6 linked regions of the Homo sapiens genome follow. The protein of the gene in region 1 purifies or fractionates together with the protein of each later gene. This does not show direct contact. Each region holds a gene or a part of one and is shown in the gene's direction. Other genes may lie near its edges. The genes, in order: URGCP, ACAD11, RNF216, DNAJA2, DNAJC7 and ASPSCR1.

Region 1 (4,929 bases):
AGGCTACAGTGAACTGAAATCATGCCACTGCACTACAGCCTGGGTAACAGAGTAAGACCCTGTCTAAAAAAAAAAGAAAGGGGAGAGGAAAAAAGAAAGAAAAAAAAGAAAACCTGCATTATTGATTTCAGGTTTGCAAAATGGTTGTTTAGCTATAATTGCTGACTCTTTATGCTTAGTGATTTCTTTCTAGTTCCTTTAAAATATTCTCTTATTTCTAGAGAGAAAAAAAACACAAAAAAACATTAACTAGAAAGCCAGAGAGTGATTCAGTGATTATGACTCCTGTGGGAACTTCCCGGTGACTCTGAGTAGCCCACGGAAGCAACACAGTGGGGAGGTGAGGCCTGCATTCAGCTTGTAGGAGTCATGTGCTGCTCACTGTAGCCAATTAATTTTGAGCTCAGTGTTAGATCTTACAGGTTTCTAGAAAGACCAGAAATATGGCTTTTGCAAGAACTCTTCCAGTTGTTAAATGTAGCTTATTTATTTCTGTTCTTTCTTTTGTTTAATGTCACATATATCTGTGGTTAGGTTGGTACCTATTGTACCTTGATGTCCGGGTTCCAGCCCTGCCTTGATCTCAGGTCAGCCTTGAGCACACCCTGAGCCTCCTGTGCCTGCACTCTGCTCTCTGAAGGGGGTCGTCACTCTCCCCATCCTGCTGGGCTCTCCTTCACCAGCTCTTCCCTGGCCCCTAGCTCAGAAACACAGGGTGAGCACTTATGTCTTCATTTCTTTCCACAGTGGAGAGAAGCAGGCTTCAAGAAATGCTGTCACTTTTGGGCCTAGAGACGTACCAGGTCCAGAAACTCAGCCTCCAGGACTCTCTGCAGATCAGTTTTGACAGTATGAAGAACTGGGCCCCTCAGGTTCCCAAAGACTTGCCCTGGAATTTCCTCAGGAAGTTGCAGGCCCTCAATGCTGATGCCAGGAATACCACTATGGTGCTGGACGTGCTCCCAGACGCCAGGCCTGTGGAGAAGGAGAGCCAGATGGAAGAGGAGATCATCTACTGGGACCCAGCTGATGACCTTGCTGCCGACATTTATTCCTTTTCTGAGCTGCCCACCCCTGATACGCCAGTGAACCCCTTAGACCTTCTCTGTGCCCTGCTGCTCTCCTCAGACAGTTTCCTGCAACAAGAAATAGCGTTGAAAATGGCCCTCTGCCAGTTTGCACTCCCACTCGTGTTGCCTGACTCGGAGAACCACTACCATACATTTCTGCTGTGGGCCATGCGGGGCATTGTGAGGACATGGTGGTCCCAGCCCCCAAGGGGCATGGGGAGCTTCCGGGAAGACAGCGTGGTCTTGTCCAGGGCGCCCGCCTTCGCCTTCGTGCGCATGGACGTCAGTAGCAACTCCAAGTCCCAGCTTCTCAACGCCGTCCTCAGCCCGGGCCACAGGCAGTGGGACTGCTTCTGGCATCGGGACCTCAACTTGGGCACCAATGCCCGGGAGATTTCGGATGGGTTGGTAGAAATTTCCTGGTTTTTTCCCAGCGGAAGGGAGGACTTGGACATTTTCCCAGAACCTGTGGCCTTTCTGAACCTGAGAGGTGACATCGGGTCTCACTGGCTGCAGTTTAAGCTCTTGACAGAAATCTCCTCCGCTGTGTTTATATTGACTGACAATATCAGTAAGAAGGAATACAAATTGCTGTACTCCATGAAGGAGTCAACCACAAAATACTACTTCATCCTGAGTCCCTACCGTGGGAAGCGCAACACAAACCTGAGATTTCTGAATAAGTTAATTCCTGTGCTGAAAATAGACCACTCACATGTCCTGGTAAAGGTCAGCAGCACTGACAGCGACAGCTTCGTGAAGAGGATCCGGGCCATCGTTGGGAATGTGCTGCGGGCACCCTGCAGGCGGGTATCTGTGGAGGACATGGCGCACGCAGCCCGCAAACTGGGCCTAAAGGTCGACGAGGACTGTGAGGAGTGTCAGAAAGCGAAAGACCGGATGGAGAGGATTACCAGGAAAATCAAAGACTCGGATGCCTACAGAAGGGACGAGCTGAGGCTGCAGGGGGACCCCTGGAGAAAGGCAGCCCAAGTGGAGAAGGAGTTCTGCCAGCTCCAGTGGGCCGTGGACCCCCCTGAGAAGCACAGGGCTGAGCTGAGGCGGCGGCTGCTAGAACTTCGAATGCAGCAGAACGGCCATGATCCCTCCTCGGGGGTGCAGGAGTTCATCTCGGGGATCAGCAGCCCCTCCTTGAGTGAGAAGCAGTACTTCCTGAGGTGGATGGAGTGGGGCCTGGCACGGGTGGCCCAGCCGCGACTGAGACAGCCTCCGGAGACGCTTCTCACCCTGAGACCAAAGCATGGGGGCACCACAGACGTGGGGGAGCCGCTCTGGCCTGAGCCCCTAGGGGTGGAACACTTCTTGCGGGAGATGGGACAGTTTTATGAGGCTGAGAGCTGTCTTGTGGAGGCAGGGAGGCTGCCGGCAGGCCAGAGGCGTTTTGCCCACTTCCCAGGCTTGGCCTCGGAGCTGCTGCTGACAGGGCTGCCTCTGGAGCTAATCGATGGGAGCACGCTGAGCATGCCCGTCCGCTGGGTCACAGGGCTCCTGAAGGAGCTGCACGTCCGACTGGAGAGACGGTCAAGGCTGGTGGTTCTGTCAACCGTCGGGGTGCCAGGCACGGGCAAGTCCACACTCCTCAACACCATGTTTGGGCTGCGGTTTGCCACAGGGAAGAGCTGCGGTCCTCGAGGGGCCTTCATGCAGCTCATCACAGTGGCTGAGGGCTTCAGCCAGGACCTGGGCTGTGACCACATCCTGGTGATAGACTCCGGGGGCTTGATAGGTGGGGCCTTGACGTCAGCTGGGGACAGATTTGAGCTGGAGGCTTCCTTGGCCACTCTGCTCATGGGACTGAGCAATGTCACCGTGATCAGTCTAGCTGAAACCAAGGACATTCCAGCAGCTATTCTGCATGCATTTCTGAGGTTAGAAAAAACGGGGCACATGCCCAACTACCAGTTTGTATACCAGAACCTTCATGATGTATCTGTTCCCGGCCCTAGGCCCAGAGACAAGAGACAGCTCCTGGATCCACCTGGTGACCTGAGCAGGGCTGCAGCCCAGATGGAGAAACAGGGCGACGGCTTCCGGGCACTGGCAGGCCTGGCCTTCTGCGACCCTGAGAAGCAGCACATCTGGCACATCCCAGGCCTGTGGCACGGAGCACCTCCCATGGCCGCAGTGAGCTTGGCCTACAGTGAAGCCATATTTGAATTGAAGAGATGCCTACTCGAAAACATCAGGAACGGCTTGTCGAACCAAAACAAAAACATCCAGCAGCTCATTGAGCTGGTGAGACGGCTGTGAGTGTGCAGAGAAACCCAGTTCAGGTGTAGGAGGCTGCTGTGGGCAGCCCTGTCTGATGGGGCACCCGTGTGGGGCTGTGCTCTGGTGCCTGAGAATGGCTGGTGCCCAATCGACATGAGAAGACGAGGAAAAGACAGGGTTTGGAGTCTCCTCAACAGTGTTAAAAGAGGAAGTGACCTCACAGACCAGCTCAGAGATGTTACCAAGAATATCACAGCCCCCAGGGTAGGGAGACAAGCAGCAGTTTGTTCTGTCTCAGCTCCTGTCAAGGATCCTGCGGGGTGGGCCCTCTGTATAGCTGCTCTCTGTCACTGGCCCCTGGAGTGGGAGCAGCGTCCTTAGTCACTGCAGGCCCAGGCGGGCAGGTGGTCCCAGGACAGAGGTGGGGAAGTTGTCCTGAGGAAGCAGAAGTAGGCCTTGCTCCCGCCCAACCCAAGGGCCTCCAGTGGACCAGCATTCAAGATGTGAGTGCCCGTGGTGTGCAAGGCACTCCCATGGCACCGTATTTATTGACTGATCTGTGAAGGCTTCCCTGACCCCTGCCCAGGAAGAGTTCACTGGTCGCTCTGTTGTGCCCCACAGCACTTTGTTATACCTCTGCCACACACTTCACGCAGCGCGTTGTAACTCATGTGTTTACATGTCTGTCCCCCCAGACTGTGAGCTCCTTGAGGGCAGGGACTGTACATTCTCCAGCTCTGTGTCCCCAGGGCCTGGCACATTGTAGACGCTTAATAAATGTCTGTTAAATGAATGAGTGCACAAGTGATGGTAATGGGCAGGTTCTGCCTCTCTGTGCCTTAATTCTCCTGTTTCTCAAAGAGGATAGCAGCATCTGTCTGAGGAGGGTGTACGGTACAGGCAGTATCTGGAATGGTAGATAGCACAGAGATGCACCACTTAAAAAAGCCATCCTGTTCCCTCTCTTTAAGGCAGGAGCCATTCTTCAGGCTGTTACTGGGGATTAAAACTAAATACCTTCACAGTAACTCTGAGGTCTTTCCACTGTCACCCCATTTCACAGTTGAGGAAAAGGAAGCCTAGAGCAGGTAATCCCCTGCCCCAGAGCTTACACCTGGATGGGCAGAGCTGGAGCGGATGAAGGGTGGTGCTGTCACGCCCAGCCCTGCATCTCTTCCTCTCATCCTCTCCAGACTCCCATGGCTTCTGGGCTCACCCCTGGGCAGCCATGTCAGTGCCAGCGCCTCCTCTTACATCCTCCCCGACCTCATCCACAGCCCACTTGCCACCATTCGAACCAGAGGCTTGGCCAAGGACTTGGTAGTTCTGCCCTGTCAGTTTTCCCGCTGGAGTCCTTGCCTGTGCTGGCCCTTCCCAGAGGCCAGTGTCACCTCACTGGGCCTCAGAACCCCACCTGAGCCCTTTCACCAGCTCTAGGAAGCTCTGCTTGATCCTCTGGGCCTTGCTTAGACCTTGGAGCCTCTTTCTCTTTGTGTTTCTTGACTTCAGAGAAACCAGGCCCTTCCCCAAGAGCTCCTACCATGTTTCTTGTCCTCCTTTCACTAGACACAGCAAGGGAGCCTTTAGCTCTCGGGAGCTCACCAGCCTTCTAGACTGGAATCCTTTC
Region 2 (4,929 bases), on another chromosome or scaffold:
ATACGCCTTTTAGGTCTCTCTCTTTTGATCTTACAAGCTACTTCTCTATCTCTCTTTTTTCTTTTTATTGCAATTTAATTGTTGAAGAAACTGGATTAGTTGTCTTATAGATTTCCCACAGTCTGAACTTTACTGATTACATTCCTGCAATGTCCTTTAATATGTTCCATGGAGTTTATCCTTTTAACTCCTGGAATTTTATAATATTATTCAACTATTTGACATCATTCCTAACATTTCTCATTAAATCTTTATATGATTTCAAATCTCCTCAAACCTCTTTTTATAATAAATCAGAAAAAAGAATCCGATCATTTGTTTGAGACTTTGTACAGATGTGTTTAACTTAATCTGATCCAGTTGTGTGCAGCCTTGTAATTGAAAATCTAGTCAAATGGTAGTTTTCCCAAGGGACTAGACTTACTAGTAAACATTAAAAGTAATTTTTGCAAAAAGACCCTTGTAGGCAATTGCCACAGACCCCTGAACTGTGATAAAATAAAATTTTGCATTAAAATGAAAAAATATTTTTAAAATTTGACCCTTAAGAAATTAATAAAAGAACCAGGCTTATTGAAAGTGGGATCACAGCCTCATATACGTTGACATATAAAATATTATATTAGACATATAAAATTTCTCAGCTTTTCTAGCATGCTGATGTCTGAAATGGTGTAAATGGGAGAGGTGGCAGTTCTTTCATGCTGCTTTGACTTCTGGTTATTTTTGTGTAGCAGCTTTCATTGATGGGGTCCATTCTTGGCCTTGCCTAATCATTTTTCTTGGATGATATAGAGTGTTACAAAAGAATTATTATCTTAATGAATCAGGAATGTTCTCTCTATTTGTTTTCTGACATAGGTAAAGTGGGAAGGATTAGAACCTTCAAGGTGAAATGTCAAACTAGAAATTTCCTTTTATAATCTGCTTGTGTTCCCCTTGGTTTTAGGAGCTGGGAATCCCAAGTGCAAAATTGCAATTGTTTTGGGAAGAACTCAAAATACTTCTCTCTCCAGGTAATTAAACAATTCTGATTGAGAAACCTGTGTAGGAATGAGCCAGTCTTCCTCCTATCTAGGTAATTTACTTAAAATTCACTGTTTGGACTCACAAATCATAATGTAAGATATGAGAGTAAATGTCATATATTTGTATTTCACAAGTATTTTCTAACAGGTGTTTTTGGAAAACATTATAGGGAGTATTGCTGAACATTCTTCGCTGTGGAATTTTCAGTATTAGAAAGTGTTGCTAAATTATCAAAGCTGTTTGGATTAAATTATCAGACAAATTTTTTCAGACCTGTGTAATGAAGTGATTAGATGTTTAGATCAAAGGCAATAATCTTGAAATGTTTAATTATATATATAAGTTCCCAGTTACCATTGTTGAGCAGTGAGAAGCTTCAATCAAACAACTCATTTATTTTCAAATCATTGTTTCTGTTCCAGATCACAGCCTGCATCAGACTATGTTGGTGTACGTCTTTTACACAGTTCCCATTCCAGTCATCACTGCTTACATGACTACATGAAAACATCAAAAAGACAATTGTGATTCTGCTTATTATCTGTTTTATTTTTCTTCTTAGCAAACTTTTTCTAATACAATTTTTCTTTTGACTAGACACAAACAGCACAGCATGATTCTTGTTCCCATGAACACACCTGGAGTAAAAATAATAAGGCCTTTGTCAGTTTTTGGCTACACAGGTAGGTATCCAATAAATATGACCATGCATTAGCAAGCAGGAAGGCTAGAATATGCAGTAACATTGAAGGCAATAGCATTTTAATGCATAAGATAGATTCTTAGATATTCCTTTGTCTGTGACAACTGTCTTAATATAAATGCTGGTGGAGTTCAGAGTAGAGCCAATAAAAAGAAATAGTATAGCATTTATGTAATTTATAATTATATAAATTATAGAATTTATAGAATATAAATTCTGCCTTTTTGGGAAAGGGCAGATTGTATTTAAGGAAGAGCAACACTACCAGTCTTTTCTCTGTCATTCATAAAAATGGATTAATGCACAGATAATCCACAATAAAATTATTTTTATCTCCAATTTTAGCCCTCTTAATCAATCAACTTACAAGAACTGTTAAAAAGCAATGAGTTTTTGACTTATTTGAGTGCAAAATTTTCCTTCCTCTGCCCTTGGGTGGGACTTCTAAGAAGCAAAGATCCATTTGTTTCCTGCCACCTACTGTGGCACGTGTTCATTGTGTACAATAAATATTTGCTAAGATCACCCTCTCAGCAAGTATTTGCTTAGCCACCATGCCCAGCTAATTTTTGTATTTTTAGTAGAGACGGGCTTTCACCATGTTGGCCAGGCTGGTCTCGAACTCCTGACCTCAGGTAATCCACCCTCCTCGGCCTCCCAAAGTGCTGGGATTATAGGTATGAGCCACCGGGCCCAGCCCCTGGCTTTCTTTTTATCATTGAATATGACTAATGAATATGTTCAAGTGGCAGATATAAGACTTGCAGTTTTATAGAATCACTTATCAGTTAAGATGCAGCTGTAGAGTATACCCACAGGGTAAGCATAGGTGGCAAGATGGGATGAGCAAGCTTGCTGGAGAAAATTGCATGTAGGAAATTGTTGGGTTGCAGCGAAACGGCCGCAAAGATACCAAAAATGCGTTTATAATATAGTTGAGCTGCAAATAATTTCCATTGCAGAGGCTACATTTGATTATTCAGTATGAAAACTTTACTAGCACCTCTCCAACTCCCTGTGTCCAGGGCCAAAAGAAACAGTGTGGAGAAGGCTGATTATTGTCTCCTCTGACAGGAAAAGGGTGTAGAGTTAGCATGAGATTATCTCTAAAACTTGGCAGGGAGAAGGGGTGATGCAAAGATAAAATGTGAACGTGTTCCTGGCCTCAGTGTTTCAAATGCCAGTATTTTCAAGAGACGAACACACAGTGGAACAAGTCTAGACTGGGAGTAAACCTACCTGAAGGTCTAGTTTCTGTATCATCACTAATGCCAAGCCTGCTCTTTCCCCTCAAGCAGGCCCCTGTCATCTTTAGGCGTTGGTTTCCACAATGATAAAATAAGAAACATGGATTACATTACTCATTTTTAATTTTTGAAACATTGAAACTTTTTTCCATGCAAATTGTTTGGAACCCCATATGTAAAATATTTCAAAGAAGCAGCAATAATAAAACAAATAAAATACTCTGGCTGGATCTATGGAGCCTGGTCTTCCTTTTTCCTAGCTCTCTGAAATTGTACTTCAGAGAATGAATTAGAAAACATCTGGATCAAAGGGTTTCTCTTCTTGAACAGTTGATGAGTTTTCTGGGCTGCTGGGTCCTGGGGTTCAGGGCTGAGGCTTACCTCAGAATGTTCATGCCATATGGATCTTTGAAATCCTATTTTCTTCAAGTAATTATATTTCAGCAGATTAAGAATATGTGACTCTTTTTTAGTCAACTCCTTTTGCTCTAAATTTTATTTTCTATTTTATAGATAATTTTCATGGAGGACATTTTGAGATCCATTTTAATCAAGTGCGAGTTCCTGCCACAAATCTAATACTAGGTGAGTTGAATTTGGAAATGATTCTTCAGTATTGTACATTAATATTTCAGCTCTAAATCTGGAAAAGATAAGTCTTTCCAGATTTAGACCTGAAGTCTACCTTGATTTAGATATTAGGTTCGTGCAAAAGTTATTGCGGTTTTTGAACTGCAATTACTTTTGCACCAAGGTAATTGCAGTTTTTGGCAAAAGCCGCAATTACTTTTGCACCAACCTAATACTTTCCCTTCTTGTTTACTCCATTTGTCAAGGGAAAGTTTTCTGTTTGGCGGATTTTCTTACATGGAATGGTGAGGTTTTATTTAAGTGTTGGATGTGGTTTTCTATATCACATCAATTGAAAAGATAATATGAAAATTATATAATTCAGAGCAATACACTTTCTCCTAGAACATGATCTGTAGGCCTCTATTTGTTTTAAGAAAACCTCAGTACTTTATGAATTCAAGTATTAGATATAAGTTAGAAGCATAAATAACTTTGAACACTGTATGCCATCCTCTTGCTTATTAGAATACTATATCCCTTTCAAAGAACATCTAGAATACCACCTCTTCCAGGAATGTTTTTGTGTTCATCCCATCCATTCACCAGGCCCCTGATACCTGCCAGGCCCTGAGGTTATAATGATGAACAGAAAATCTCTTCTTCCTTTGCCTTTGTTTCTCTCTGTATCTCTTACCCTTACCCACTCTTCTGGATTCTAAACTCCTAGTACAGGGACTATGTGTTATTCCAACTTTGTATCTATTGCAGCATTAATAAAATAGCTTATGCATAGTACATACTTAAGAGACAGTTCTGAAATTTGAAATGTTTAATGGTGGTGGTTTTAAAAACATAGAAATCAAAATTCCCATGAATTCATAGTGAACCTTATTATAGAACTGACTTTTTTTCACTAGAAAGCCATTTTTATTAAGGGCAGCTCATCTCTTTCCCAGGATTTGTATAAATAACAAAAGGAATGGGCTAGGCCATTTTCACATTCCCCCTTTTTTTCCCCTTTCTTCCCAGGTGAAGGTAGGGGATTTGAAATTTCCCAAGGCCGCCTTGGACCTGGCAGAATCCACCACTGTATGAGAACAGTAGGTTTGGCGGAACGCGCTTTGCAGATCATGTGTGAGCGGGCAACACAAAGGATAGCTTTCAAGAAGAAGTTGTATGCACATGTGAGGACGATTACTTATTTGAATTTATTGTAGCCCGGTGCACTACACTAACATTGAACAAAAACATTACTTGTGAGAGACAGACTTTCTCTACATGAACCGGGTGATTCTTTTCAATAAGGCATATTTATGTCTGTATTTAAATATAGTCTAATGAGAGGTATTTATCTTTATGAAAAATTAAATAGTTCCT
Region 3 (4,929 bases), about 38 Mb from region 1:
AGTTCGAATGGTTATTTGAACTAACCATTATGTGTCCCCCTCCTTCCCTTCCCTCCCTTGTTTTCCTTCCTCCTCCTCTACCAAAGAAACAGCTTCTTCTCTTCTACAACTCCAGTTATGTGTTTTGAAGACCTTTTTGTTCTTGACGTGTTCTCTTATCTAATGTTGCATTTTGTCTATGCCTTACTATGGCTATTCTGACCTGGCTTTCAATGCACTAATTTCTCTCTTCAACTGTATTTACTTAAAATGCTATATATCCATATGTAGCATTAGTTATTGTATTTTTAGTTTTTGTATTAGTTATTGTATTTTTCCATTCTGGAATTTGCGTTCGATTCTTCTTCTTCTTGGCTGCAGTTCTCAATCTAGTCTTTGATTTCCCTAAACATGCTGTTACTTTAGAATTCATGTTGTTAATTTCACTGTGTGAAACCCTTGTATATTTGTTTCTGTTGTCTGTTACTTCTCTTGTTTTGATTTTCTGTTGCTGCATTAAGTTCTTGTATGCCTAGTTATTTTTGATTGAGTGTAAGTCATTGTATATGAAAATTTTGGGATTCTGTATGATGTTGTTTCTCTATAGAGGATCTTAATTGGTTTCTTGAAGAAGAGTAAGAGCACCAGCACCTCACATTCAGGGAGTTAAACTCTCCACGCTGCGATTCAGTTCCTGGGAGGTCCAGGGTATTTCCAGCTTGGCCCTTACTTCAGTGGCATAGTCCTCAGGGACCCACCCTAAAGCCTGAGATTCACCATCTCCTTTCTTCTAGGGACTTCCCAGAGGAACTGTTGTTACCAGTTTAGCATGTATCCTTCCAGGTCTTTTCTTTGAATTTGTATGTATCCATGTGTATATACATGTGGGTACATATACATACTTTTAGAAATGATTTTGTTTGTGTCTTATTGACATATTTTAAGTAAATGGAATCATTCTGTGTATGATTTTGCAGCTTGCTTTTCTTCACTTAATGGCATTTCTTAGTGAAGCTTCCCATTTCAGTACAGACTGAGCTACCTCTTTTTTTGGTAGGGGTCAGTTGTAGAGTATTTTGTAGAACAAATAAGTAATAGTTTATTTAACCATTCACTCAGGGACAAACTTCACAATGTCTCTAGGCTTTTTTCTGTTTATGCTGAATATTCTTGTATATGCCCTTTTTCGATAGAGTTTATAGAACAGTATGAAAAAATGATGACAGACATACATTTTTTATTTATATTTATGTATTTGTGTATTTATTTATTTATTTGAGACAGAGTCTTGCTCTGTCTCCAGGCTGGAGTGCTGTGGTACCATCTTGGCTCACTGCAACCTCTTGACTCCCTGGTTCAAGCAATTCTGCTCCGTCAGCCTCCCGAGTAGCTGGGATTGCAGGCACACGCCACCATGTCCAGCTGATGTTTGTATTTTTAGTAGAGACGGATTTTCACCATGTTGGCCAGGATGGTCTCGATCTCCTGACCTCGTGATCCGCCTGCCTTGGCCTCCCTGAATGCTGGGATTACAGGCATGAGCCACCACGCCTGGCCTACGTTTTTTATTTTAATAAATAGTGCCAAATTTCTCTCCTAAATTCACCAGCAGTAAATGATAGTATAAGAATTTTCACACATCGGCCAAGCGCGGTGCCCCACACCTGTAATCCCAGCACTTTGGGAGGCTGAGGTGGGCCAGTCATCTGAGGTCAGGAGTTCAAGACCAGCCTGGCCAACATGGCAAAACCCTGTCTCTAACAAAAATAGAAAAATTAGCTGGATGTAGAGGTGTGCGCCTATAATCCCAGCTACTCGGGAGGCTGTGGCAGGATAATTGCTTGAACCTGGGAGGCAGAAGTTGGAGTGAGCTGAGATCATGCCATTGCACTCCAGCCTGGGCAATAGAGCGAGACTCTGTCTCAAAAAAAAAAAAAAAAAAAAAAAAAAAGATTTTTCACCATCCTCACCAATGCTTGGTATTATCTAATTTAAAAGTTTGCCGGTCTTACAGGGAAAAAAATACTGTCTTGTTTTAATTTTTCATTTTGCTAGTTACTAATGAGATTTAGATTTTTTTATATGTTTTTTGAACATTTCTTATTCTTCTGATGTGTTAGCATTCTTTCATTGTTGTATCTGCTGTGGAGTTATTTTTGTTTTAGTAGTCTCAGGTTAAATTATAATTCAGGGCTGGGTTCAGTGGCTCATGCCTGTAATCCCAGCACTTTGGGAGGCTGAGGGAGGCGGATCACTTGAGGCCAGGAGTTTGAGACGAGCGTGGCCAACATGGCAAAACCCCATCTCTCTTAGAAACACAAAAATTAGCTGGACATGTTGGCACATTTTTGTAATCCCAGCTACTTGGGAGGCTGAGGCACAAGAGTTGCTTGAGCCCGGGAGGCAGAGGTTGCAGTGAGCCGAGATCGCACCATTGCACTCCAGCCTGGGTAGCAGAGGAAAACTGTGTCTCAAAAATAAAAATAAATTATAATTCAAACTATATCTCAAGCTTTAATCTATGAATGACTACTTTGATTCTTACAGATAGTATATAGTGTAATCAAATTTCAGTGTTAAGATAAATGTAAAGAATAGGTATTGTTAAGGGAGATGGTGTTTTTGTTTCTTTCCTGTCCTATCTCGGAAGCTCAATATAAGTACATAAGGAGGGATAGGCATAGGAAAGAAATTGAATTATTAAAATTTCATTTTTTCTTAGACAAATAAACCTCAGAGATCACGACCCAATCTCATCAAACCAGCTGCCCAGTGGCAAGATCTGAAAAGGTTGGGAGAAGAAAGGCCTAAAAAGTCTAGAGCAGCATTTGAATCAGATAAGAGCAGCTATTTTTCAGTGTGTAACAACCCATTGTTTGATTCTGGGGCACAGGATGATTCTGAGGATGACTACGGTGAATTTCTGGATCTTGGGCCTCCTGGAATCTCTGAATTCACTAAGCCAAGTGGCCAAACAGAAAGAGAACCCAAGCCTGGACCGAGTCATAACCAAGCAGCAAATGACATTGTCAACCCCAGATCAGAGCAGAAAGTCATCATCTTGGAAGAAGGTAGCCTTCTTTACACAGAAAGCGATCCTTTGGAAACTCAGAACCAGTCATCCGAAGACTCAGAGACAGAGCTGTTATCAAATCTAGGAGAGTCAGCTGCTCTAGCAGATGATCAGGCCATCGAAGAAGACTGCTGGTTAGATCATCCTTACTTCCAGTCTCTGAACCAACAGCCCCGTGAAATAACAAACCAGGTCGTTCCTCAGGAACGGCAGCCTGAAGCAGAACTGGGCCGCTTGTTGTTTCAGCATGAATTCCCAGGGCCCGCTTTTCCAAGGCCGGAACCCCAGCAAGGTGGGATTTCAGGCCCCTCTTCTCCTCAGCCTGCCCATCCTCTAGGAGAGTTTGAAGACCAGCAGTTAGCAAGTGATGATGAAGAGCCAGGTCCAGCCTTTCCAATGCAAGAATCTCAAGAGCCCAATTTGGAAAACATTTGGGGGCAAGAAGCTGCAGAGGTAGATCAAGAGCTCGTTGAACTACTAGTGAAAGAAACGGTAAGTTTTATTTTATCAAGTAAATGTAGACACTACATATACTGAGTTTTTTTCTTTTTTTTTTTTCATTGCAAAAAAAAAAGTTGTTGGTATGCGTGGACTTCATTTTCCTAAGAAGTATATATCTAGATGTACAGAATAGAAGAGACACTCTGAAGACATGAAAATGGAATCAGGGTTCCTTTACTATACTTAACCTTCAGGAAGCTCTCTGGGATTCTAACTGCATATCATGGTGGCCTGGTGCTGTCATACCTGCAGTCCCTTGTTTTTTTCAAATTCCTTGAGTTCACTCCAAATGGAAACCCTTAAAGCAGTTTTATTGAATTACCTAGACCTATGCTGTCCAATATGGCACTTACTAGCTCCTTGTGGCTGTTTACATTTAAATGTCTTACAGTTAAATAAAATTTTCCAGTGGCATCAGTCACATCTTAACCTTAGTAGCCACATGAGGCTAACAGCTTACCTCATCATCAAGCATGGAGGACAGTGTTTCTGTCATCCAACAAAGTTCTATTAGTGGTGATATTAAGAGTAACACAAGGGCTGGGCGTGCTGGCTCACACCTGTAATCCCAGCACTTTGGGAGGCCAAGGTGGGTGGATCACAAGATCAGGATATCAAGACCATCCTGGCTAACACGGTGAAACCCTGTCTCTACTAAAAAAATTAAAAATTAGCCGGGCGTGGTGGCGGGCGCCTGTAGTCCCAACTTCTTGGGAGGCTGAGGCAGGAGAATGGTGTGAACCCAGGAGGCAGAGCTTGCAGTGAGTCAGGATCGTGCCACTGCACTCCAGCCTGGGCGACAGAGTGAGACTCTATCTCACAAAAAAAAAAAAAAAAAAAAAAAAAAAAAAAAAAAAAAGGTGTTACATCTGGTAGCCACTATTTGCCTTCAAACAAGTCCGTTAACCCTACTTTACCCAGGCGGGTTTTTTTTGTTTTGTTTTTGGTTTGTTTTTTTTTTGAGACCGAGTCTCACTCTGTCACCCAGGCTGGGGTACAGTGGTGCGATCTCAGCTCACTGCAACCTCCGCCTCCTGGGTTCAAGCGATTCTTCTGTCTCTGCCTCCCGAGTAGCTGGGATCACAGGCACATACCACCACGTCTGGCTAATTTTTGTATTTTTTTAGTAGAGACGGGGTTTCACCATGTTGGCCAGGCTGGTTTTGAACTCCTGACCTCAGGTGATCCGCCTGCCTCGACCTCCCAAAGTGCTTCGATTATAGGCATGAGCCACTGCACCCGGCCACCCAGGTGTTTTTATCTAGGCACTAGGTTGTGTGCTGCTTGAGGGCTGGCATGAGATTGTAACTTATTTGTGTTTGGATTCCCTTTGTCTAGACAGAGATGCTCAATATTTGTTGAAGCAATGAAGAATG
Region 4 (4,929 bases), on another chromosome or scaffold:
ACAGGAGAAAGAACATGAGGTGATTTTCCTTTTTTTAGTTTTTTGTATTTTGTTTTATTCAGAAGTACTTCTTGCTTGTGAGAAATAGGTTAGATCTGTTTGGAGTCCCTGGAGCAACACTGAACACTGGTGAAGTTAAGGGCATCATGGTGAGTTCCTAAGACGGGCTTGTGTAAGAAAGACTAACAAGGCAGGTGCAGTTAGAAGCACTGTAAGAGTCAGTTTTAGTCCTGGCTTGGTTTCTTCCCCCTGCCCCTCAGTTGGAGTTTCACTCTTGTTGCCCAGGCTGGAGTGCAATGGTGCGATCTCGGCTCACTACAACCTCTGCCTCCCGGGTTCAAGTGATTCTCCTGCCTCAGCCTCCCGAGTAGTTGGGACTACAGGCATGCTTCTTCACTCCTGGCTAATTTTTATTTTTAGTAGAGACAGGCTTTCTCCATGTTGGTCAGGCTGGTCTCAAGCTCCCAACCTCAGGTGATCTGCCTGCCTCAGCCTCCCAAAGTGCTGGGATTAAAAGCGGGAGCCACCGCGCCTGGCCTTGGTCTTTTTTGTGTGTGTGTGACGGAGTCTTGCTTTGTTACCCAGGCTGGAATGCAGTGGCACGATCTTGGCTCACTGCAGCCTCCACCTCCCAGGTTCAAGCGATTCTCCTCTGGCCTGGTCATTGACTAACACTTTAACCATAGGTAATCTTACTGTCTCAGTTTCTTTGTTTATGAAAATAAGGGCACTGGGTGTTGGACCAGTTGATCTAAGGCAGCCTGTATTTTCACTGTGAAACTCTGCTGCTCTGTCGATTTGGTTTTTACTTATTGGGTACCCAAGTGAGCTATCCTTGAAAGGGTTCTGGGATTTTTTTTAAAAAAAATATTTTTTTAGAAGCTTCTGAAGAATGTGGTCACTAGTGTATGTTTTGGGGGGTTTTTGTTTTTGAGATGGTCTTGCTCTGTCGCCCTGGCTGGAGTACAGTGGTGTGATCTGGGATCACTGCAACCTTCGCCCCTGGGCCCAAGCAATCCTCCCATCTCAGCCTCCCAAGTAGCTGGGACAACTGGTGCACCATCATGCCCATCTATTTTTTTGTTTGTTTGTTTTTTGGGGTTTTTTTTTTTTTTGTATTTTTAGTAGAGACAGGGTCTTGCCATATTGCCCAGGCTGGTTTTGAACTTCTGAGCTCAAGCGATCCTCCTGTCTCAACTTCCCAAAGTGCTGGGATTACAGGTGTGAGCCACAGTGCCCAGCCTAGTGTATGTTATTTTGATTTTAACATTGCACTTGTATATTTTTAATGTCCATATTGTATACTGTAGACCCTACTCAAAGAATAAATCTGGAACTATTCATGAAAAACCCCTCCAGTAATCACCTAAATTCTTGAATGTTAGAAGCACTTGATAGGACTCTAGCTTTGTACTTGATCACATTTACTCATGTGTTCCTCTGAAAATCATTACATCACAGGTTAACCACCTTTTTAGTTTGCCCTAAAATTTTCTCCTATGCATAAGCCCAATGAACACGGAGAAATGGTAAATTTGTATTATGTTCAGTGAAAGGTTATTCTTTTTAATTCTAAAAAGGTGGGCAAGCTGATTATCATTTATAATTTAAAGGTTATATTTGATAAAGAAGGAGATCGTCCTTCTGTGGTGATCATTTCTTCAAATAGAGTAAATTTTAAAAATCACTTTAAGAATCCAATAGAGAACAACAAAGCCATATTGAGATGCAGGTTTTAGGAATTTGGTAGTAATCCCTCACAAGGTCAGACTTGATCTCCTGGACAATCAGGGCATGCTAGTCAGCTTTCATGACTCAGCAAAGCTACAAATTATGTATTTTGGCTTTTTGTGGAAATTGCCAACCCTACAGATAGCAAACGTCTCCTCGGTTGTCAAAAAGTAAGAGTAGTTTTTAGAATTCTGCCTTTGGGTCTTGTAGAATGAAATATTTACAAGATTTGCTATTTGTTAACATTTTAGCTACTTCCTTGTTCCTTCAGTCTTGCTGCTGTGCACACCACCATACCAGGAATATGAGGGAGAAAGCTAGCAAGACAGCTAAATAATTGGAAATTCTGCTTGGAGGTTAGACTGTGTTGTAAAATGGTACAGACAGTGCCTGGGCATTTTCATTGATAGAATCCTTGGAGTCGTTTGGGGTTCGTTGTCAAATGATGTCTGGCAGTGCAGCAGCATGATAGGAAGTGAAGAAGGAATGCTTATTTGCAGAGGAAGGATGACTTTTTTTTGGTTTGAGGCATGTCAAACTGATGGTAAAACCTTTTTTATCCCTAAGTTTAGTTTTTAATGTTGCTGCATAATTAAATTGGGTTTTTAAAAGTAGATCATTGGATTTGGAGGCAAAGGACTTAAGGTCTGGGCCCCGTTTACTAGCTTTGGCTTCCCTGGACTTTTTGGATATTAAAGAGTCAAATGAGATTATGAATAAGCTTCTTTCTTGGGGCCTGTGGGGAGGTGTTGGGAAGTAACTCATCTCTGAAAATTGTTGGCAGCAGTGGAATTGGCATGGAATTTTCAACAGAAGGCAGATGTAGCTAGTTGTCTAAAGTAGAAAATAGAAGATGGTAAAGGTTAGAATGGAAGTTTGTCTCGTTCCTTCTTGGGAGTGCTGTATCATCTATAGTCATCATCCTGCCATGTCACTTGTCAGTGTGCCTGTTTGTGTGTCTCGGTGGTCTGGTTACCATAGTGCACTTGTACAGCATCAAACCACAGAACCTGGTGATGTTAGTCACGCCTCTATAACCTGTACTTTTGTTATTCAGAAATATGACTTCTAAGTGTTTTCTGGTCTAGTGCTTGGTGGTCCCTCCTCATTAATCTTGTTTTTCAGAAACTCTCTGGCATCCTTGCTTGTTTATTCTGTTTAAACTTTTAACATCAAATTGTTTAGCTTCCCCGCTCTGCTGCAACAACCATCCTGATAATCATAATCATTTTTTATTGAAATCACTTTCAGTTGAACTCTCCTGTACAAGAACGTGATGTGTATCTCTTCCTGTTCCCTTTTCTTTTTTTTTTTTTTGAGACAGTCTTGCCCTGTCACCCAGACTGGAGTGTAGTGGCGCAATTGTATTTTTAGTAGAGATGGGGTTTCATCATGTTGCCCAGGCTGGTCTCAAACTCCTGACCTCAAGTGATCTGCCTACCTCGGCCTCCCAAAGTGCTAGGATTATAGGTGTGAGCCACCGTGCCCTGCCCCACTTTTTATTTTTGTTTTTATTTTTGAAATGGGGTCTCACTCTGTCACCCAGGCTGGAGTGCAGTGGCGCGATCTCTGTTCACTGCAACCTCCACCTCCCGGGTTCAAGTGATTCTCCTGCCTCAGCCTCCCAAGTAGCTGGGACTACAGGCTCATGCCACCACACCCAGCTAGTTTTTGTATTTTTAGTAGAGACAGAATTTCGCCATGATGACCAGGACCTCAGGTGATCCACCTGCCTCAGCCTCCCAAAGTGCTGGGATTATAGGCATGAGCCACTGCATGCATCCTAAAATAGTATGACTTTAACAAAGGATATTTGGTAAGATGGTTCTTAGAACACTGGCATTTTACAGTATACTTAGCATTTATTTTAAATTTATTATTATTATGTTTAAGAGACAGGATGTCCTTCTGTCTCCCAGGCTGGAGTGCAGTGGCTGGATCATTAATGAGGAGGGACTGCCCCTGCAGGCTCCAAATCCTGGGCTCAAGGGATCGTCCTGCCTCAACTAGCCTAGTTTATGTTTTAATTTTTTGTCTCCCTATGTTGCTGTTTTGAACTGGCCTCCCAAAGCTCTGACCCTATATTTAGCTTTTTTAAATTTTTTTATTTTTTTCTTATTGAGATGGAGTCTCGCTGTGTCGCCCAGGCTGGAGTGCAGTGGTGTGATCTTGGTTCACTGCAGCCTCCGCCTCCCAGGTTCAAGTGATTCTCCTGCCGCAGCCTCCTAAGTAGCTGGGACTACAGGCGCGTGCCACCACACCTGGCTAATTTTTGTATTTTTAGTAGAGATGGGGTTTCACCATATTGGCCAGGCTGGTCTTGAACTCCTGACCTTGTGATCCGCCTGCCTTGGCCTCCCAAAGTGCTGGGATTACAGGTGTGAGCCACTGCACCTGGCCTACTTAGCATTTTTAATGCGTTGAAAAATCCTGCATTAAAAAAACTATTGGTCCCATTGTGAGGAACACTTGAATATATGTGCATACATAACATACCTTCTTGGATCTCAAACTTTAGCACACACACAAGAATTGCCTGGAGGGCTTGTTAGGACTACAGATGCTGGATCTTGCCTGCCTTGTTTCTGGCAGGAATGGAAGTGGGGCCCAAGAATATGTGTTCCTAACAAGTTTCCTGAAGCTGCTGGTCCAGAACCACACTTAGAGAATCATTGGTTAAGGTAATGGTTTAACTTTGTTTAATGAGTAAATTTAGGAGAGTAACATAGGAAAAGAACCTGTCTACCAGATTTTCTATAAGTGAACCGGCCAGGATTGTTCTTTACAAGAAGAGTGACCATTGTAAAATCTAAGCAAAAATTGCAGGTTGGGCGTGTGAAGTTGGATGTATTTTTCCTACACATTGAAGGCTCAGAAACATTCTTTGTGCTTATTCTCAATACCTTTTGCATTACCTAGTCCATAGGCTTATAGTGTAATATTGAATGAGCCAGTTTTGCATTTTAGTGAGATGTGAGACTTGTTGGTATGTGTGTGAAGCACGGAATTGAGCCACTTGACTTTGCTGGCTGGGTGTTAACTGGTTGATGTTGGGTTTTATGTTGATCTTGGACCCTCCCCCCTTCCCTGTTACGATCATGTCTGGGGAGCACTCCAGGGTGAGCCTGTTCTGTAGGAGCCCTCTGGGCATTCTGTACCTTTTTCACCAGAGGCAGAGTCTGAAAGTGGGCAATAGTT
Region 5 (4,929 bases), on another chromosome or scaffold:
CTTGTTAGCTAATTTTCTCTCACTGCTAGATTAAGGGCTCCTGTTTCTGAAGCATCTTACCAGAAGTGTGTGTCTCTTGCTTGAGCCATGCCTCTTGCCCTAGAGTGATCCTGAGAACCACTGCTATTTATGTCTTAGTGCTGTATTGCCTTGTATTTCCTTCTCAGTTACATGGACACAGAACAGTATGAAGAAGCAGTACGAGACTATGAAAAAGTATACCAGACAGAGAAAACAAAAGGTAAGTTTAAAAGCATTTGTTTTTTAGGGAACTGTGTGGACTTCGTAGGCCATAAATCTGTACACAAGGTAGTTTGATTCAGGGATCAGGGATCTACCTAGAACTTATTTGATCACCAGCCAGAAAGAAGTGAACAAAGGCTGGGCGTGGTGGCTCACGCCTGTAATCCCCAGCACTTTGGGAGGCTGAGGCAGGCAGATCACCTGAGATCAGGAGTTGGAGACCAGACTGGCCAACATGGTGAAACCCCATCTCTACTGAAAATACAAAAAATTGTGGGTATGGTGGTATACGCCTGTAATCCCAGCCACTCAGGAGGCTGGGGCACGAGAATTCCTTGAACCCAGGAGGCGGAGGTTGCAGTGAGCTAAGATTGCGCGACTATACTCCAGCCTGGGTGACGGAGCGAGACTTCATCTCAAAAACAAAAACAAAAAAAAGAAAAAAAAAGTGAACAGATATCTTGGGTTGGGGCATGAGGCACCTATTTTCTGGTTCCAGATCCTCCCTGTCGTTTTCATTTCATTTTTTGTGTGGTGAGGCTAAAGTGAGGAACCTAAGTCTGGGTAGATTTTCTTTTTTCTTTTTCTTTTTTTTTTTTTTAAGATGGAGTCCTGCTCTGTCACCCAGGCTGGAGTGCAATGGCATGATCATAGCTCACTACAACCTTTGCCTCCCAGGTTCAAACAATTATCCTGCCTCAGCCTCCCGAATAACTGGGATTACAGGCACATGGTACCACGCCTGGCTAATTTTTTGTATTTTTAGTAGGGATGGGGTTTCACCATGTTGGACAGGCTAGTCCCGAACTCCTGACCTCGGGTGATCCATTCTGTCAAGCTTGATTCCTCCCATCTTGGGCCAAGGGCCCCTCCTTTCTTTCGTGCTACCGAAATAGAAGCAAACCTGTGTTTAGAGTTCCCTTTTCTGTCTCATTTACCTGCATCTCTCATTGATGCAGGCCTCCCAAAGTGCTGCGATTACAGGCATGAGTCACCGTGCCTGGCCGAGTAGATTTTTTTTCTAATCTCCAGAAGAAAGCACCGTAAAAGTCCCTGGCATGGTTAACAAGGCCTCTAACTCCCAGGCAGCTGGGCTGAGACCTGGTGAGGAAAAAACCAGAGTCAGATTTGTCCACTGATGCCAGATGTCTTCCTGTAGAACACAAACAGCTCCTAAAAAATGCGCAGCTGGAACTGAAGAAGAGTAAGAGGAAAGATTACTACAAGATTCTAGGAGTGGACAAGAATGCCTCTGAGGACGAGATCAAGAAAGCTTATCGGAAACGGGCCTTGATGCACCATCCAGGTAGAGTAGGTGCGGGGAGTGGGCTCAGTGGGAAGAACCCGCAGGGCAGGCCAACTGCCACACTCAGTCCAGAGGGGACCCCTTGGAGAGGTCCTTCAGCTGAGAATAAGGTGTTGCAGACTTGTGGACCCTCCAAATTTTGGGAAGTGCCAAATTCCAAAATTAGACAGAAAGTAGTTTTTCTCTTAAACTTTGTTTTCTTGAAACTTTGATTTCCACTGAGTTGTTCTTTTACTCCCCACTTTAGATCGGCATAGTGGAGCCAGTGCTGAGGTTCAGAAGGAGGAGGAGAAGAAGTTCAAGGAAGTTGGAGAGGCCTTTACTATCCTCTCTGATCCCAAGAAAAAGACTCGCTATGACAGTGGACAGGACCTAGATGAGGAGGGCATGAATATGGGTGGTGAGTTGGCTGGGGCAGCCTGGGATGAATTTGACAGCTGTAGAATGTTAGAATTTTTTCCAAAGATGCTCCAGAGGGAGAGTCTATTTGGGCCAAATCTGATCCCTGGTCCAAACAGTAATAGACATGGAGTCAAACAAATGCAGTCAAATGTGGCAGGTTCACAGTGTGCAGTGAGCTCTGAGGAGGCGAGCACTAGCAAGGGAAGGCTTGGAAGTGCAGAAAAGCATGGCCCCATGGGTCATGCCTGTAATCCCAGCACTTTGGGAGGCCAAGGCAAGCAGATCACTTGAGGTCAGGAGTTTGAGACCAGCCTGGCCAACATGGTGAAACCCTGTCTCTACTAAAAATACAAAAATTAGGCTGGGCGCGGTGGCTCATGCCTGTAATCTCACCACTTTGTGAGGTCAAAGCAGGTTGATCACCAGGTCAGGAGTTTGAGACCAGCCTGGCCAACATGGTGAAACCTCGTCTCTACTAAAATACAGAAATTAGCCAGGTGTGGTGGTGGGCGCCTGTAATCCCAGCTACTCGGGAGGCCGAGGCATGAGAATCGCTTGCACCCAGGAGGCGGAGGTTGCAGTGAGCCGAGATTGTCCCACTGTACTCCATCCTGGGCGACAGAGCAAGACTTTGTCTCAATTAAAAAAAATAATAAGAAGAAAGAAAAAAGAAAAATTAGCCAGGTGTGGTGGTGCACACCTGTAATCCCAGCTACTTGAACCCGGGAGGTGGAGGTTGCAGTGAGCCAAGATGGCGCTACTGCACTCCAGCCTGGGCAACAGAGTGAGACTCCATCCCTCCCCACTAAAAAAGCAAAGCATGGCCTCTTTGGGGATCTGCAGGGGGCTTGGTCTAGGGAAGATAAAGGGATAGGGTGCTAGAGGCAGGTGGTGGTGGAAGGCCGGCAAGTAGCTGGATCAGAGCTCACAGGCCATAAGGGCTGTATGTGGTAAGGAATATGAGCATTTTCCTATTATCTGGAAGTTCTTTTTTACCCACTGCAAAGTGTATGCTGACATTTATGTATGTCATACATTCCTATAAACACTCACAGATTTTAATTTCCCAAAAAGATTTAGCATGATATAAAGCACACCTATTGTCAATATTGTTGCTCACTGTGGGCTGTCAGAGATAAGAGGCCCTGACCTGTGAGCTGGGCGCGGTGGCTTACGCCTGTAATCCCAGCACTTTGGGAAGCCAAGGCGGGCAGATCACCTGAGCTCAGGAGTTCAAGACCACCCTGGGCAACATACAAAATACCAAAAAAATTGTACTCTCTACTAAAATACAAAAAAATTAGCTGAGCATGGTGGTGCATGCCTGTGGTCCAAGCTACTCAGGAGACTGAGGCACCAAAAACTCTTGAGCCCAGGAGGCAGAGGTTGCAGTGAGCTGAGATTGCGCCACTGTACTCCAGCTTGGGTTACAGAGTGCGACTCCATCTCAAAAATTAATTAATTAATTCAGTCAGTCTTCACTCTAAGTTGTCTGCCAAAAAATTTGCTGGGCATGGTGGCTCACGCCTGTAATCCCATCACTTTGGGAGAACAAGGTGGGCGGACCACAAGGTCAAGAGATTGAGACCATCCTGCCCAACATGGTGAAACCCCGTCTCTATGAAAAATACAAAAATTAGCTAGCCATGGTGGCGCACGCCTGTAGTCCCAGCTACTTGGGAGGCTGAGGCAGGAGAATCGCTTGAACTCGGGAGGCGGAGGTTGCAATGAGCTGAGATCGCACCACTGCACTCCAGCCTGGCGACAGAGCAAGACTTGTCTCAAAAAAAAAAAAAAAAAGAGGACCTGACCTGTGAATGGTGAACAGACCTACCATCTCTTCCACTAAGAAAATCTATTGGGATTTTGTTTTTTGTTTTGTTTTGTTTTTTGAGACGGAGTCTTGCTGTGTCACCCAGGCTGGAGTGCAGTGGCACCATCTCGACTCACTGCAACCTCCGCCTCCAGGGTTCAAGTGATTCTTCTGCCTCAGCCTCCCGAGTAGCTGGGACTACAGGTGTGCGCCACCACGCCCAGCTAATTTTTGTATTTTAAGTAGAGACGGGGTTTTACCATATTGGCCAGGCTGATCTGGAACTCCTGACTTCGTGATCCACCCACCTCGGCCTCCCAAAGGGCTGGAATTACAGGCGTGAGCCACCGCGCCCGGCCTTTTTTTTTTTTTTTTTTTTTTTAAGACTGAGCCCAGTCTGGGTGCAGTAGTGCCATCTTGGCTCACTGCAACCTCTGCCTCCAGGGTTCAAGCAATTCTCCTGCCTCAGCCTCCTGAGCAGCTGGGATTACAGGCATCCACCCCCATGCCTAGCTAATTTTTATATTTTTAGTAGAGACAGGGTTTCACCATGTTGGCCGGGCTGGTCTTGAACTCCTGACCGCAAGTGATCTACTGGCCTTGGCCTCCCAAAGTGCTGGGATTACAGGCGTGAGCCACTGTGCCTGGCCTTCCATTGCAACTTATTTATTTATTTAATTTTTTTTTGTTGTTATGTTTTTGAGACATGGTCTTACTCTGTCACCCAGGCTGGTGTGCAGTGGTGCAGTCTCAGCTCACGGCAACCTCCACCTCCCAGGTTCAAGAAATTCTCCTGCCTCAGCCTCCTGAGTAGCTGGGATTACAGGCACCTGCAGCCACACCCGGCTAATTTTTATATTTTTAGTAGAGACGGGGTTTCACCATGTTGGCCAGGCTGGTCTCAAACTCCTGACTTTGTGTGATCCGCCCATCTTGGCCTCCCAAAGTGTTGGGATGACAGGCGTGAGCCACCGCACCCAGCCGGAATTTAAAATAAGAATGATGGTACTATATAGATAATGCTGAGTCCTCTCCAGTTCAGTGTGGGGGTATTTGTGTTTAATAAACCTAGGTTCACCACAATAAACATGTTCCTCTGCCTAGCAGTTAAGAAGATCTATAAGCAGTCAAAAACTAGTGAAGAGGTTTTGTTTTGTTTTGAGAC
Region 6 (4,929 bases), on another chromosome or scaffold:
GGACGGGACCAGGAGGGTTGTTCGCAGGGACTGCCAAGCCATCCCCAGGTGTCGAGAGTGTGAGGTAGGAGTGGGAGCCCAGAGCCGGCTCCAGGCCACCCCAACTCCCGACAGCTCTCGGCTGTTCTGTGTGAGGGGGGACGGGGCCGAGTGTGGGTCGGCGCAGTGCTGAGGTGTCCCACGTACCCCAGCACTGTGCTGAATGCATTGAAATCACTGCCCAGGGCTCCGCGAGCTGCACGGCCCGGCTTTGTCAATTTCATTGCTGTTGATGCCAATTAGGGGTGACGCTGTCCCTCCCGCATCCCAGGGTGGGCAGAGGGAGGGGCCGGCTTGTTCCCTGGGGGCAGGCGTGCATGGATTCAGCCTGGCCATGGAGCTGTGGCCAAGAGGGCAGCGGGGGCAGCTGGACTGGGGTTTTTGCCGACGCTCTAATTTGGCGGCTGTCGCCACCCCTCCCCCCCATGGAGACCCTGACGTGGCCTGAGCCAGACTCCAGGGGCCATGTGCCCTGCTGGGGAGCAGGGGCTCAGCATCAGGTCTGGTGCACTGACTGGGAGAGGGGGGTCTCCAGCCCTGGACAGGCTCTGAGTGGGGTGGGGTCCCCCAGCTGCTGTGCCCAGCCCTGCCCCCAGGACCTGGCCTTGGCCCTGCGCTGGCCGGGGCCAGGGAGGGAGTGGGCCCAGCTCCCAAGTCTGTGTGACCACCTCGGCTGGGGCACTGACAGCCCGGGGTGCGGAGGGCCCAGCCCGTGACACCCGCCGTCAGCCGCGCCCTCTGCCTCCAGCCCGTGGACCGGGAGCCCGTGGACCGGGAGCCGGTGGTGTGCCACCCCGACCTGGAGGAGCGGCTGCAGGCCTGGCCAGCGGAGCTGCCTGATGAGTTCTTTGAGCTGACGGTGGACGACGTGAGAAGACGCTTGGCCCAGCTCAAGAGTGAGCGGTGGGTGCCCCCTCAGTGCCTCCCGGCATCTTCGCGCCAGGGTTTGCCCCATCGGGTGCTTGTGCTGCCCGCTGTCCCCAGTGCCAGCACTGGCTCCCGGCCCAGGTCCCTGACAGGCTGCCCTTAACAGGACCTCAGAGGGTTGGGGCCCAGGGAGGGGCGTCCAGACCTTCCTGCCTTGTGTGGGGAGAGCAGCCCACTCCCACCCTGGAGGGTGCAGGTGAGGAGCCCGGGGCCTGTTGCCAGGGCCCCCATTCTGACCAGAAGCCCTGTTCCTTCCCCTCCTCACCACAGGAAGCGCCTGGAAGAAGCCCCCTTGGTGACCAAGGCCTTCAGGGAGGCGCAGATAAAGGAGAAGCTGGAGCGCTACCCAAAGGTCTGCAGACAGGATGTGGGGGCGACTGAGGCACAGCTCTGAGGGGGCCCCCCGTGAGGTCTGTGGACGGGATGGGGCGACTGAGGCACAGCTCTGAGCGGGCCCCCTGTGAGGTCTGTGGACAGGACGTGGTGGCGACTGAGGCACAGCTCTGAGCGGGCCCCCTGTGAGGTCTGTGGATGGGACGTGGGGGCGACTGAGGTACAGCTCTGAGGGGGCCCCCTGTGAGGTCTGTGGATGGGACGTGGGGGCGACTGAGGCACAGCTCTGAGCAGGGCCCCCCCGTGGTGGCGCGCATGCCCTTAGTGGCCAGTTGATCCTCCCCTGCTCATGATTTAGAATGAAACCTTTTTTTTTTTTTGAGACGGAGTCTCTCTCTGTCGCCCAGGCTGGAGTCAGTGGTGCCATCTCAGCTCACTGCAAGCTCCGCCTCCCGGGTTCAAGTGGTTCTCCTGCCTCAGCCTCCCAAGTAGCTGGGATTTCAGGTACCCGCTACCACTAGCTCGGCTAATTTTTGTTGTTTTTTTTTTTTTTACTAGAGATGGAGTTTTACCATGTTGGCCCGGCTGGTCTCGAACTCCTGACCTCAGGTGATCTGCCCGCCTCGGCCTCCCAAAGTTCTGGGATTACAGGCTTGAGCCACCACACCTGGCTGAATGAAACTTTAAACAGCACATTTGAGCCGGGCGTGGTGGCTCACGCCTGTAATCCCAGCACTTTGGGAGGCCAAGGTGGGCGGATCATGAGGTCAGGAGATCGAGACCATCCTGGCTGACACGGTGAAACCCCATCTCTACTAAAAATACAAAAAATTAGTCAGGAGAGGTGGCGCACGCCTGTAGTCCCAGCTGCTCGGGAGGCTGAGGCAGGAGAAAGGCGTGAACCCGGGAGGTGGAGCTTACAGTGAGCCGAGATCATGCCACTGCACTCCAGCCTGGGCGACAGAGTGAGACTCCATCTCAAAAAAAAAAAAAAAAAAAAAAAACCAGCACATTTGAACCCAGGTCAGTGTGGTTTTAGAACGCAGGCCGCTGTGCACACACACGGCACTTGGCTGTCTCCATGCCCAGCCTGCCACGGGGGAGTCAAAGCCCAGGCCCTGATTGGGGGTGGCTGCTTCTGCCTGCCTCAGCCCTGGTGTCCATGGCCCAGCATGGGCCGAGTGGGGAGGCCACGCCCTGGTCCCTGGTGCAGCTCCGGCCGTCCCTCCAACCCTTCCACTTGTCTGGCCTAGGTGGCTCTGAGGGTCCTGTTCCCCGACCGCTACGTCCTACAGGGCTTCTTCCGCCCCAGCGAGACAGGTGGGCAGCGCTGTGGGGTGTCCGGGGATGGGGGGCAGGGGCCCATGGGGCCTCTCCCGGCTCCTTCCTTCCAGGCCACAGGACTGCAGCCACCTGGCCTGCGGGCTCCAGGGCACTGGGTGGGTGCGGGTGCTGATGTCCCCTTGGGGGTGCAGAGGCATCCCAGTTCGCAGAGTGTCAGGCAGGCTGGGCGCTTGCTCCAGGTGCCCGGCCCCAGCTCAGGGAGCCCGTGGTCCTGAGTGCTCACGTCGCCCACCTACTGGGCATGGGTGGGGCAGAGGGGCACCCAGAGGAAGGCACCCTACCCCGGGAGGAGGGCAGTGGTGCTGTGACATTCAGGGGCTTGTGACCTGTACCCAGACGGCCGGGCGGCAGCAGCCCAAGGTCACAGGGGCCTCCCCCAGGGAAAGGGAAGCGCTTAGGCTGGGGCGGGGGTGGGGCTGGGGGGCAGCGGGTGGCAGTGGGAGTGCTCTCCAGCAGGGCGGGGGTCCCAAGTGTGGCCCGCACGGTGGCCCAGCCACGCCGAGCACCTGGAGTGCTGTGGGAGGAACAGGGCTGAATTCCCACCCCTCGGGGAAAGGCCCAGGAGGGTGGGAGCAGTGGCCCAGGTGCTGGGGCAGCCCGGGGCTGGCGTGGTGGAAGAGCTGTCTGTATGTTCTTTTTCTCCTCTGCAGTGGGGGACTTGCGAGACTTCGTGAGGAGCCACCTGGGGAACCCCGAGCTGTCATTTTACCTGTGTACGTTTTTTCTCCTGAGCCCACTCCTGCCTCCAGTGCTCGGGGCCTTGGTGCTGTGGGCACACCGCCCGTCCCAGCTGGGGCTCGTGGCAGCTTCTCCACAGGAGCAGCATCTGTGGCCTCCCGCCCAGGTGCCTCCTGCAGCCCATGGTGTCTGTGTGGAGACCTAGGAGGGCCCTTCTCCCCGAGCCAGGCGGTGGGAGCCAGGCTTCCTGCCTTCTCTCTCAGCGCCCTGCTCCCCTCTGGAGCCCTGCTGCACCCCAGCCTGGTCCCCACCCCTGGGGCTCAGGCCACTCCTGCCCGAGGGCTGTGGGAAGGGTGGGTGGACAGGGAGTGGCTGGCCTCCCTTGGAGGGTGTCTAGGTGGCAAAGGGTTAGGCTGCCCACTGCAAGGGGAGCCGGGCTGCACGGGTGGTGTCCCCTGCAGGTGGGCCTGCCCCCCACCGGCCCTTCCGAGCCCTCAGCTGGAGTTTCTGCAGCAGGAGTGTGGGCACAGGGCGTGCTCGTGAGGGGCTCTTCTGCCCCACTTGAGGCGTCACCCCCATCTGCAGGCCTGTCTTCCTTCGGGCGCATGGATGGGCGAGGTCCACGGTGCTTCCTAACACGTAGGTGCCTTCTCTCCTCAGTCATCACCCCTCCAAAAACAGTCCTGGACGACCACACGCAGACCCTCTTTCAGGTACCTGAGGGCCTCCCTGGGGTGCTGCGGGGCGGGGCCCTCCAGGGAGGGCAGGACGAGAGCGTGAGGCCTCGGGCAGGAAGGAGGGGCCTGGCAGGCGCTGGGGCAGGATAATAAAGCCTTTGAGAGCCGGTGGGTTCCGAGGGGGCCGTGCGCCTCTGAAGTTGCTTCTGACACGGCTTTCCGGCCTCCTCTGCTTCCTGCCTGGCCCCGGGTGGGAAAGGACCTGCTAGGCGGCCTGCCTGAACTGAGGCCGCTTGGAGGTCTCGGCCCCCCTGGGCTGCTGTGCTGGGGCCAAGGCGGCAGCAGTCCCTGCCCAGGGGTCTGGGTGAGGAAGGGCCCGGCAGGCCTCGGAGCAGGGCTCAGGGAGCCCCAGAGGGACCAGGCCCTCAGCTGGAGGCGGCCGCCTTGGGCTTCAGCTGCCCCTTCCCCCTGCCCGGCCTCTCCCGCTGGCCCCCCGGTCCCTGCTAGGAACGCCCTGGTGCCCATAGCTGTCCGCTGCTTCTGTGGGTCCCTGCCACCTCCCTGAGGGCTCCTGAGGGTGGGGCCAGGGTGAGGGTGCCGGGTTCCCAGCCCTGCTGGGCCGCCCTCCAGAGCCAGAAGCAATGAATGTCCTGTCCTTGGCCTGTGGGAGAGCTGCCTGGGGCCTTCCGAAGCCCTCTGGCCTAATGGTTTCCTCTTCAAAGCCTCTTCAGATATTTTAATTAGCCACAGAGGCGGGTTTTTTTTTAAGTGGCCACAGGCCTCTACAGAGGCCTGGGTTGGAGGTGAGAAGCTTGCTCACTGCCTGGGGCTGCAGCCGCTTACTGAGCTGGGGCAAGAAGGCTGGCAGCTGCCAGGGGTGATCAGGAGCAGGACTGAGCGGGATTCCCTGCAGCGGAGGCAGGGGAGGGGT

What was found.
Region 2: the proteins of URGCP (region 1) and ACAD11 purify together in Homo sapiens (affinity purification with mass spectrometry; one large-scale study listed by BioGRID and IntAct). This does not show direct contact.
Region 3: the proteins of URGCP (region 1) and RNF216 purify together in Homo sapiens (co-immunoprecipitation; one large-scale study listed by IntAct). This does not show direct contact.
Region 4: the proteins of URGCP (region 1) and DNAJA2 purify together in Homo sapiens (affinity purification with mass spectrometry; one large-scale study listed by BioGRID and IntAct). This does not show direct contact.
Region 5: the proteins of URGCP (region 1) and DNAJC7 purify together in Homo sapiens (affinity purification with mass spectrometry; 2 studies listed by BioGRID and IntAct, with this or other methods). This does not show direct contact.
Region 6: the proteins of URGCP (region 1) and ASPSCR1 purify together in Homo sapiens (affinity purification with mass spectrometry; one large-scale study listed by BioGRID and IntAct). This does not show direct contact.

The regions. Positions count from the first base shown.
Region 1 is NC_000007.14:43,875,079-43,880,007, reverse strand, and holds the end of URGCP (up-regulator of cell proliferation), read left to right. Parts: intron 1-747; coding exon 748-3,341; 3' UTR 3,342-4,095; downstream 4,096-4,929. UniProt on the Homo sapiens protein: May be involved in cell cycle progression through the regulation of cyclin D1 expression. May participate in the development of hepatocellular carcinoma (HCC) by promoting hepatocellular growth and survival.
Region 2 is NC_000003.12:132,575,579-132,580,507, reverse strand, and holds part of ACAD11 (acyl-CoA dehydrogenase family member 11), read left to right. Parts: intron 1-949; coding exon 950-1,016; exon of another isoform or gene 1,017-1,626; coding exon 1,627-1,712; intron 1,713-3,492; coding exon 3,493-3,564; intron 3,565-4,581; coding exon 4,582-4,736; intron 4,737-4,929. UniProt on the Homo sapiens protein: Acyl-CoA dehydrogenase, that exhibits maximal activity towards saturated C22-CoA.
Region 3 is NC_000007.14:5,739,588-5,744,516, reverse strand, and holds part of RNF216 (E3 ubiquitin-protein ligase RNF216), read left to right. Parts: intron 1-2,701; coding exon 2,702-3,544; intron 3,545-4,929.
Region 4 is NC_000016.10:46,959,701-46,964,629, reverse strand, and holds part of DNAJA2 (dnaJ homolog subfamily A member 2), read left to right. Parts: coding exon 1-19; intron 20-4,929. UniProt on the Homo sapiens protein: Co-chaperone of Hsc70. Stimulates ATP hydrolysis and the folding of unfolded proteins mediated by HSPA1A/B (in vitro).
Region 5 is NC_000017.11:41,978,875-41,983,803, reverse strand, and holds part of DNAJC7 (dnaJ homolog subfamily C member 7), read left to right. Parts: exon of another isoform or gene 1-167; coding exon 168-241; intron 242-1,402; coding exon 1,403-1,549; intron 1,550-1,796; coding exon 1,797-1,949; intron 1,950-4,929. UniProt on the Homo sapiens protein: Acts as a co-chaperone regulating the molecular chaperones HSP70 and HSP90 in folding of steroid receptors, such as the glucocorticoid receptor and the progesterone receptor.
Region 6 is NC_000017.11:82,008,250-82,013,178, forward strand, and holds part of ASPSCR1 (tether containing UBX domain for GLUT4), read left to right. Parts: intron 1-787; coding exon 788-942; intron 943-1,236; coding exon 1,237-1,318; intron 1,319-2,552; coding exon 2,553-2,619; intron 2,620-3,293; coding exon 3,294-3,356; intron 3,357-3,906; coding exon of another isoform or gene 3,907-3,981; coding exon 3,982-4,034; intron 4,035-4,929. UniProt on the Homo sapiens protein: Tethering protein that sequesters GLUT4-containing vesicles in the cytoplasm in the absence of insulin. Modulates the amount of GLUT4 that is available at the cell surface. Enhances VCP methylation catalyzed by VCPKMT.